2 separate regions of the Homo sapiens genome follow, and region 2 is reported to be linked to region 1. The links are microRNA targets in miRTarBase. Many come from high-throughput screens and were not tested one by one. Region 1 holds a microRNA gene; the other region holds the end of a gene's coding sequence. Distances are from middle to middle.

Region 1 (4,431 bases):
CCAGCAGTTACCGAAAAGATAGTTCTGGGGCCTCAGGGGGCTCATGTCCATGTCCATCGAATCTTCCATCGGGTGGCGGCACGCACTTAGGTAGGAGAGAAGGCGGACGGAGATAAAAGAACGCTGCTCCAGAGAACAACCGCGCAGGACGGAATCACACCAGGGAAAGGACGCAGGCTCCCCGCGCTTATATATAGACCCTGAAGATCTCGCGAGCGCTTCCCAAGTCCCGCCTCCGCGCGCGTGCTCCGAAGCCCTCCCACCCCCGTACCGTAGCCGTCCTGCGCAAGCGCTTTTCAACCCCACTCCTTTCTACCTCGCCCCCACCTCCTTCCAGGTACTCCGCGGGCTCCCACCGAGCACGCGCACTCGTACACTGGCCCCACCCCTCCGCTGCTGTCGCCTGTGCGCACGCGTGCTTTCCAGTCGTAACGCGCACTCCCCACCTCCAACCCTTCCACGTCCTCTCCCGCTCAAGCGCGCCGGCCTCCCGCCAAGAGTCTGCGCAGCCCACCCTGCAAAATGGCGTCGGCAGCCCTTAGCTGTGTAAGATATGGCGGGTTAGCCGGCTGCGAATGAGCCAGAGAGCACCTCGATTCACCTTTCCCCATCCCCTAGTGCCCTGCAAGCCTCCAAACAGGCGTAATCACTTCAGGAATTTTTTACTTGCCTGAAGGCTTCGGATCGCAGTTAATCGTTACCCCAAAGTTCAGGTGCCAGAGAGAGTGAATTGCGGCTTATTCTTTGTTAGGAAGGAAAGATGTAGTTACCGGCCAGACTTACGGAACTTTGTTTTTCAGCTCTGTCCTTCCTGAGAAAACATCTCCAAAGTCCTTATCTTTACGTAACTTGGGGGCCAAAAGGGGACTGAATCAGTCTCCAAATTAGCAAGGACATCGCCCTAAGAGAGCTCGGAGGGTGGGCCGACTCTGACTTCTTGCCGCTCTTAATCTTTAACATTCCTCCTGAAAGAAAGCGGGTGACTTGTAAGAACTACAGAAGCCTTAATTCGAATATTTGGGAGCGAGCATGGGAATTAACGTTTTAAGCTACACCTTGACAAACTCCGAGGCACCCCAGCACCCCGCGGGCATTGGGGCGTTCTGAAGACCCGTAATCTTTTTTTTTTAAGCCTCAACATATCAAACAAATTTAAGAAGTGAGGAATACAAATGATAGCCTCAGAAAGGAAGACACCCCCACCCCAAGGCATTATTTCTTACAGGAAAATTATAGAGACGATTTCAGTGTCTATCAAGAGAGGAATGAACAGTTAAATTATAACATGTCCATATTATGGGTTAGTTGTGGACACATACTAACGCATAATATGGACATGTTATAATTTAACTGTTCCTTTCTGAGAGCTCCTGTGTCACATAAAGCTTTGAGTCACTTAAATTTGTTATGCCTTTTTTTGTGTGTGTGTGGAGACAGAGTCTCGCTGTGTTGTCCAGGCTGGAGTGCAGTGGCGTGATCTCCGCTGGATGCAACCTCCGCCTCCCGGGCTCCCGAGTAGCGAGGACTACAGGTGCATGCCACCACGCCCGACTAATTTTTGTATTTTAGGAGGGATGGGGTTTCGCTGTGTTCTCCAGGCTGGGCTCAAACTCCTGACCTCGGGTGATCCGCCTGTCTCTGCCTTCCAAAGTGCTGGGATTTCAGGCGTGAGCCACCGCACCCAGCCAGCATTTTTTTTTTTTTTAAACGGGGTCTCGCTCTCTTGCCCAGGCTGCAGTGCAGTGGCAAGATCTCTGACTCACGAGTTCTGCCTCTTGAGTTCCAGCAATTCTCGTGCCTCAGCCTCCCAAGTAGCTGGGATTACAGGTGCCTGCCACCGCGTCCAGCTAATTGTTGTATATTTAGTAGAAACAGGGTTTCGCCATGTTGGCCTCCCAAAGTGCTGGGATTACAGGCGTGAGTCACCACACCCGGCCACTGTTTTATTTTTTATTTTAATTTTTTTTTTTTTTGAAACCGAAGTCCCGCTCTGTCATACAGGCTGGAGTGCAGTGTTATGATCTTGGCTCACTGTGACCTTTGCCTCCTGGGTTCAAGTGATTGTCCTGCCTCAGCCTCCCAAGTAGCTGGGATTACAGGCGCCCCCCACCACGCCTAGCTAATTTTTGTATTTTTAGTAGAGATGGGGTTTCACCATGTTGGCCAGGCTGGACTCGAACTCCTGACCTGAAGTGATCCACCCGCCTCAGCCTCTCAAAGTGCTGGACTTACATGCGTGAGCCATGGCGCCCGGCCTTATCTGAGACTTTAAAAAAAAACAATCCAGCAAAAGGGGAGGAGAAAGGAGAGTGGGAAGGTATATATGAAATAAGATTGACTACATGATGATAATTGTTAAAACTGGGTGATGGGTATATGGTTGTTCATCATAGGATTCCTTCTATTTTTGTTCTTGTTTGAAAATTTCCATGATAAAATGTGTTAAAAAATGAAGATTAAAATAAAACTTGTATTTAAAAAATGGTATATCAGTTTATCCTGTGGAATACTGTGCAACTTCTAAAAAGAATACAGTGGTCCCCTATATATTATATCCTGGAAAGATAGCTATGCCACATGAAGTAAAAAAGCAAAGTTGGAGAACAATATATATATAATACGACCCTGCTTACGTAAACAGTGAATGCCAGGTGCAATGGCTCATGCCTGTAATCCCAGCACTTTGGGAGGCTGAAGCAGGAGGGGTTGGAGTTGAAGACCAGCCTGGGCAACATAGTGAGACCCTGTTTCTACAAACAAACAGAAAAAATTAGCCGGGTGTGGTAGCACATGCCTGTAGTTCCACCTACTCAGGAGGCTGAGGTAGGTGGGAAGATCTTAAGCCTGGAAAGTCAAGGCTGCTGTGAGTCATGTTCACACCACTACTCTCTAGCCTGGGTGACAGAGTGAGAGCCTGTCTCTAAAAAAACCAACCAACCAACCAAAAAAAAGAAAAAAGAAAAGAAGCATTTATATGTACTGTATATATATTTGTAAGTGCCTGCTCTACTTACTGTGCAAATCCATTTCTTAGAATACTCTACAAAACTACTTTCAGACATTAATAATTATATAGGTACAAAGATATTTACTAAAGCTGTCTCTCCCTACTTGGAAAGCTGAGGCAGGAAAATCACTTGAACCCAGGAAATGGAGGTTGCAGTGAGCTGAGATTGAGCCAGTGCACTCCAGCCTGGGTGACAGAGTGAGACTCCATCTCAAAATAGATATATTTATTTCTAATAGTATGAATTACCCAGTTCAAATACCCCTGTCTCTTACAGTTGATTTGCTTGAATAAGGATCAAAACAAGGTCTACACATTACCTTGAGTCATGTTGTCATTTAACATGTTCCTGGCCGGGTGTGGTGACTCACGCCTGTAATCCCAGCACTTTGGGAAGCCGAGGAGGGCGCATCACCTGAGGTCGGGAGTTCAACACCAACCTGACCAACATGGAGAAATCCCGTCTCTACTAAAAATACAAAATTAGCCAGGCGTGGTGGCATGCCTGTAATCTCAGTCTGTAATCTTCTGTAAAGGAGAATGTTTCTTGATCAATTATTTGATTACCCTAAAAAATCGTTTTCGGCCAGGTGCAGTGGATCACACCTGTAATCCCAGCATTTTGGGAGGCCAAGGCAGGTGGATCACCTGAGGTCAGGAGTTTGAAAACAGTCTGACCAACATGATGAAACCCTGTTTCTACTAAATTAAAAAAAAAAAATAGCTGAGTGTGGTGGCATATGTCTGTAATTCCAGCTACTTGGGAGGCTGAGGCAGGAGAATTGCTTGAACCTGGGAGGCGGAGGTTGCATTGAGCCAAGATTGCACCATTGCCCTCCAGCCTGGGCAACAAAAGTGAAAACTCCGTCTCAAAAAATAATAATAATAATTTTCTTTCTAAGATGGGGTCTCACTCTGTCACCCAGCCTGGAGTGCAGTGGGGTGATCTCGGCTCACTTCCGCCTCCCAGGTTCAAGTGATCCTCCCATCTCAGCCTACTAAGTAGCTGGGACTGCAGGCAAAGGCCACTATGCCCAGCTAATTTTTTGTATTTTTGGTAGAGACGATTTCACCATGTTGCTCAGGCTGGTCTTGAACTCCTGAGCTCAAGCAACCCACCCACCTCAGCCTCCCCAAGTGCTGGGATTACAGGTGTGAGCCACCATGCCTGGCCAAAAATAATTTGTACCACCCTGGGCAACAGGGAGACCCCATCTCTACAAAAAATTTTAAAATTCGTTGAGTGTGGTGGCTCACACATATGGTCCCTGCTACTCAGGAAGCTGAGGTGGGAGGATCACTTGAGACAGGGAGGTCGAGGCTGTGGTAAACCGTGATCAAGCCACTGCACTCCAGCTTGGGCAACAGAGAAAGACACTGTCTCAAAAAATAAATAAATAGAAATAATTTGTATAAGAAAAGCA
Region 2 (4,000 bases), 34 Mb from region 1:
GCCTCGCCCCATGCCGTGGACGGCAACACTGTGGAGCTGAAGCGGGCGGTGTCCCGGGAGGATTCGGCGCGGCCCGGTGCCCACGCCAAGGTTAAGAAGCTCTTTGTCGGAGGCCTTAAAGGAGACGTGGCTGAGGGCGACCTGATCGAGCACTTCTCGCAGTTTGGCACCGTGGAAAAGGCCGAGATTATTGCCGACAAGCAGTCCGGCAAGAAGCGTGGATTCGGCTTCGTGTATTTCCAGAATCACGACGCGGCAGACAAGGCCGCGGTGGTCAAGTTCCATCCGATTCAGGGCCATCGCGTGGAGGTGAAGAAAGCAGTCCCCAAGGAGGATATCTACTCCGGTGGGGGTGGAGGCGGCTCCCGATCCTCCCGGGGCGGCCGAGGCGGCCGGGGGCGCGGCGGTGGTCGAGACCAGAACGGCCTTTCCAAGGGCGGCGGCGGCGGTTACAACAGCTACGGTGGTTACGGCGGCGGCGGAGGCGGCGGCTACAATGCCTACGGAGGCGGCGGCGGCGGTTCGTCCTACGGTGGGAGCGACTACGGTAACGGCTTCGGCGGCTTCGGCAGCTACAGCCAGCATCAGTCCTCCTATGGGCCCATGAAGAGCGGCGGCGGCGGCGGCGGTGGAGGCAGTAGCTGGGGCGGTCGCAGTAATAGTGGACCTTACAGAGGCGGCTATGGCGGTGGGGGTGGCTATGGAGGCAGCTCCTTCTAAAAGAAAATTTAAAATGCCTGGGAGTGGCTATAGGGGTAGCTCTTTCCAACAGCCCAAGTGGGGTCAACTCCTAAGCCCCACCCCCTCACACACACCGCCTTCCCTGTTTTGCCCTTGGGGGAGCCACTTCTAAGGCTGCTTACCCTTGGGGGTGTTCCTCTATTTGCCTGCCACCTCTCTTGTCTCTCCCTCTGAAGATGGACTCGGCCCCACATACACATTTTTGTGTTACAGTCATTGATGGACTCTATTTTTTTATTATTACTTGGACCTTGGTCGTTTTTATACTAGCAAAATGTCTTGTTTTAATTTGTGTTTTTTGGGGGGAGGGAGGGAGTGAACTTGCTGATTCTGTAGCAAAACCTGGGTGGGGGTTGGGGTGGGGGGTAGTTTACTTTGTTGTAAGGACTTGATAACCTGGCTACAGCGTTTTCTATGAAATCTACTTGGATCCCATGCCTGAAATTTGGAAGCATATGTACAAAAATCATTTTTACGTTTTATTTTTAATAAATCATTGTGTTTGACCGTACATGTCTAACATTTTTTTTCTAGGATCCATTCCGTACCGTTTTTTAAGGGATATTTGTTTAAGACTTTACGTGTTAATTCTTTATTCTTGATGTGTACTTAGAGAAACTTAAGAGGTCCTGTGGTTTTTTTCCCCTCTCCTGTTGCCCTGCTAGTTGCGTGTTGAATTATATCCCTTACAGGCAAAACTTTTGAAGTGGTGGATGTGGCTTTTTAAACTCTTAAGTTTCTGTGCATCCATCTCTTGTACTAAGCGAATTGTTTATCATCTTGACATGGTTGGTCATTTCTATGACAATTTACTTCAAACTGTGTACTGTGTAGTTCTATATAGTTTGTGTTAAGCATGTCATTCATATAAACTGTTTAAAATTTTTCAGATGGCCTAGTTTCATCCCTCTTACTGGTTTGTCTGTAATGAATGGTTAAAAATAAGGGTTATATTTTACCCTCAAATGCGTTTTTGTACTTTCAGAGCAGGTTTAAACGTTTTTTTTTTTTTTTTCCTATATCCGAACTGTTGGCCTCATGGAAATCCCTTTCCCGATCTTTGTAGCACCATCTACTGGCAGAATGGCAGAGTAGCTGCGAAACAATTTGTTTAAAAACTTGCTTAAGACAATTGCATCAGATTTGGAAGTTTTGCCATCAAAATTCTTTGCAGAATTGGAAGTTAACACATTTGCTTGTAACTGAGATGGGCTTCACAGGAATGTAGTTGCCAGTTCATATCACAATAGCCCTTTCTATATGAGGTTTGAAAATGTAAACTGCTATGCATAGCTTGGGCAATAGCCCTAAATTGCTATGACAACTAATGAACCAGCTACGTATACTGGTATTTTAGGTGCAAGTTGTAAAGCAAAATATCTGTGTATTCTGCTTGGTTAACAAATGTATATTTGTAGCCCTTTCCTGCAATAGCATTCAAGTTGTTGTTTATAAGAGAAGAACAAAAGTGATAATAGGTGAAAATTGCCTTTCTGGATAGAAATAGAGAATAGCAACGTTTATGGATATCACAAATAAAGAATTCAATTCTTTACATGATTGAGTGAGAGTATGTATAACCTGGTGGGTGGGTTCAGAGTACCTTTTAATCTAGTATGCTTAACTTGATGTTAATATTTAACTTAAATATTTGACTTACATGTTGACGTTGAAGGCTCAAAGCTATACTAAGAAGCTTTCTGAAAGATTGGGCTTTAAAATAAAATAATATTTTAATATTGAACCATTTTTTAACTTCTTGTCACTGTTCAATTCCTAAGGTCTAGTTCTTGCCAGTTTTTTTTTTTTTTTTCCTGATTGGCAGGGCTTTTAAAGAAGTAAGAAGAAAGGTTAAGATTATTAGGCTAGGTTATAGCTGCTCAGTAGTCATTTTGACAAAGGGTAGCGGATGGTTGGTACAAATAGTGTTATATCCTCTATGACAAACGGGGTGGATGTTTTTACACATTGAGGTAATACATAGTCAAATCCTTTGCTCTCAAATAGTTGTACACTTTCCATACATTTCTGTCTTATTTTTTAATTCTAGTGATACACAAATTACATGTGGGCTACTTCATTTGGTAATTTGGTCCAGCTTTTTGGTGGCTGTAGAGTGGCCTCTAGGATACAGAAAATGATTCTCTGAAATTTTTCGTTGTAATTGTTAAATACTACTCTGCTTGACTTACTCAGTTTTGGTGGGAAGATCTGGGTCAATTGGAATAGTACACCTTTCTCAGGGTTTTCAGTTTAATAAGGTTGTCATATTATTCCCAACATGGGAATATAGTGGCTTCTAAAGTTTGCAAATGAATTATGTAAAAGGATTTTCTGTGTATTAGGAAGGCAACCTGTTCTGTTCATGGTATATTAACACTTCATTGTCATGTGTCTACCCTTAAAATTGCTATTTGTAGTGAAGAAAAAAGCATAGTGGTATTTAGTCACTTCTGGGTTCCTCTTGTCAGTTTATATGCAAACATTTTGGCATGTGGGACTTGGGGAGGAGGGACAATTGGTTGTATGTTTTGACCACTTCCACCTATGAAAATTATCTGAACATTATTCAGATTTAAGAGTTCATGGGAGCAGGTGGTACAGAACCTAGTGTTGAATATAATTTTTGTGCCATGCTTGAATGTATTTTGACGGATTAGCAAAATAAAAGTGAACCTCCTATTTTTCATCTTAATGTGAAGATCTTTGGCATTTACATTCTTTTAAAAGTATAAATTCAGTAGTCATTAGTTGAAAGTGGTTTGAAAGGCTGTTAGAGATGATACAGGTTGAGTATTCCTTATCTGAAATTCTTGGGCCCAGAAGTGTTTTGAGTTTTAGATTTTTTTCAATTTTTGAATATTTCCATTATGTTTACCAGCTGAGCAGCTCTCATACAAAAATGTAAAATCCAAACTGCTTCAATGAGCATTTCCTTTGAATGTCATGTCTGCACTCAAAAAATTTCGGATTTTGGAGCATTTTAGATTTTTTGATTGGAATATCTGTAGTGTTTTTCAGGTCATTTAAAAAGCTCTCATTGGTACTGATTTACTGTATCCAAAAAAAAGCCTGCAAGTGGTTAAGGTTCACAGTGATAACTATCAAATCAGAATGACTATACTGATTGTACCCATTCATCCATTTTTAACTTAGTGATTTGGAACGTTTCATATTCAAATCTAATTTTCATAATTTTTAAGTAAACCTAAAAGATTGAGGATACTTGAGAAATTTGCATTTATGATTTCCTTCAAAA

The links. Region 1 holds the annotated microRNA hsa-miR-3912-3p (UAACGCAUAAUAUGGACAUGU, at 1,320-1,340, shown strand). A microRNA usually pairs through its seed, bases 2 to 8, with sites in the 3' UTR of a target mRNA and lowers its output. Matches are read on the target gene's strand: a 7mer-m8 pairs with bases 2 to 8, a 7mer-A1 pairs with bases 2 to 7 and ends in A, and an 8mer does both.
Region 2: miRTarBase lists HNRNPA0 as a target of hsa-miR-3912-3p. Seed matches in the 3' UTR shown: 7mer-m8 at 1,707-1,713.

Annotation. Positions count from the first base shown.
Region 1 is chr5:171,383,587-171,388,017 of GRCh38, reverse strand. It overlaps MIR3912 (microRNA 3912), which reads left to right and starts at 1,258; the gene lies at 1,258-1,362. NPM1 (nucleophosmin 1) reads right to left here and starts at 169. Exons shown (of 11, transcript NM_002520.7): 1 at 12-169. The coding sequence starts at 69.
Region 2 is chr5:137,749,869-137,753,868 of GRCh38, reverse strand. It overlaps HNRNPA0 (heterogeneous nuclear ribonucleoprotein A0), which reads left to right. Exons shown (of 1, transcript NM_006805.4): 1 at 1-4,000. The coding sequence ends at 720. Among named protein-coding and RNA genes, the nearest start is that of HNRNPA0, 2.5 kb to the left of the region's middle. RefSeq lists enhancers at 1-76, 587-746, 156-847.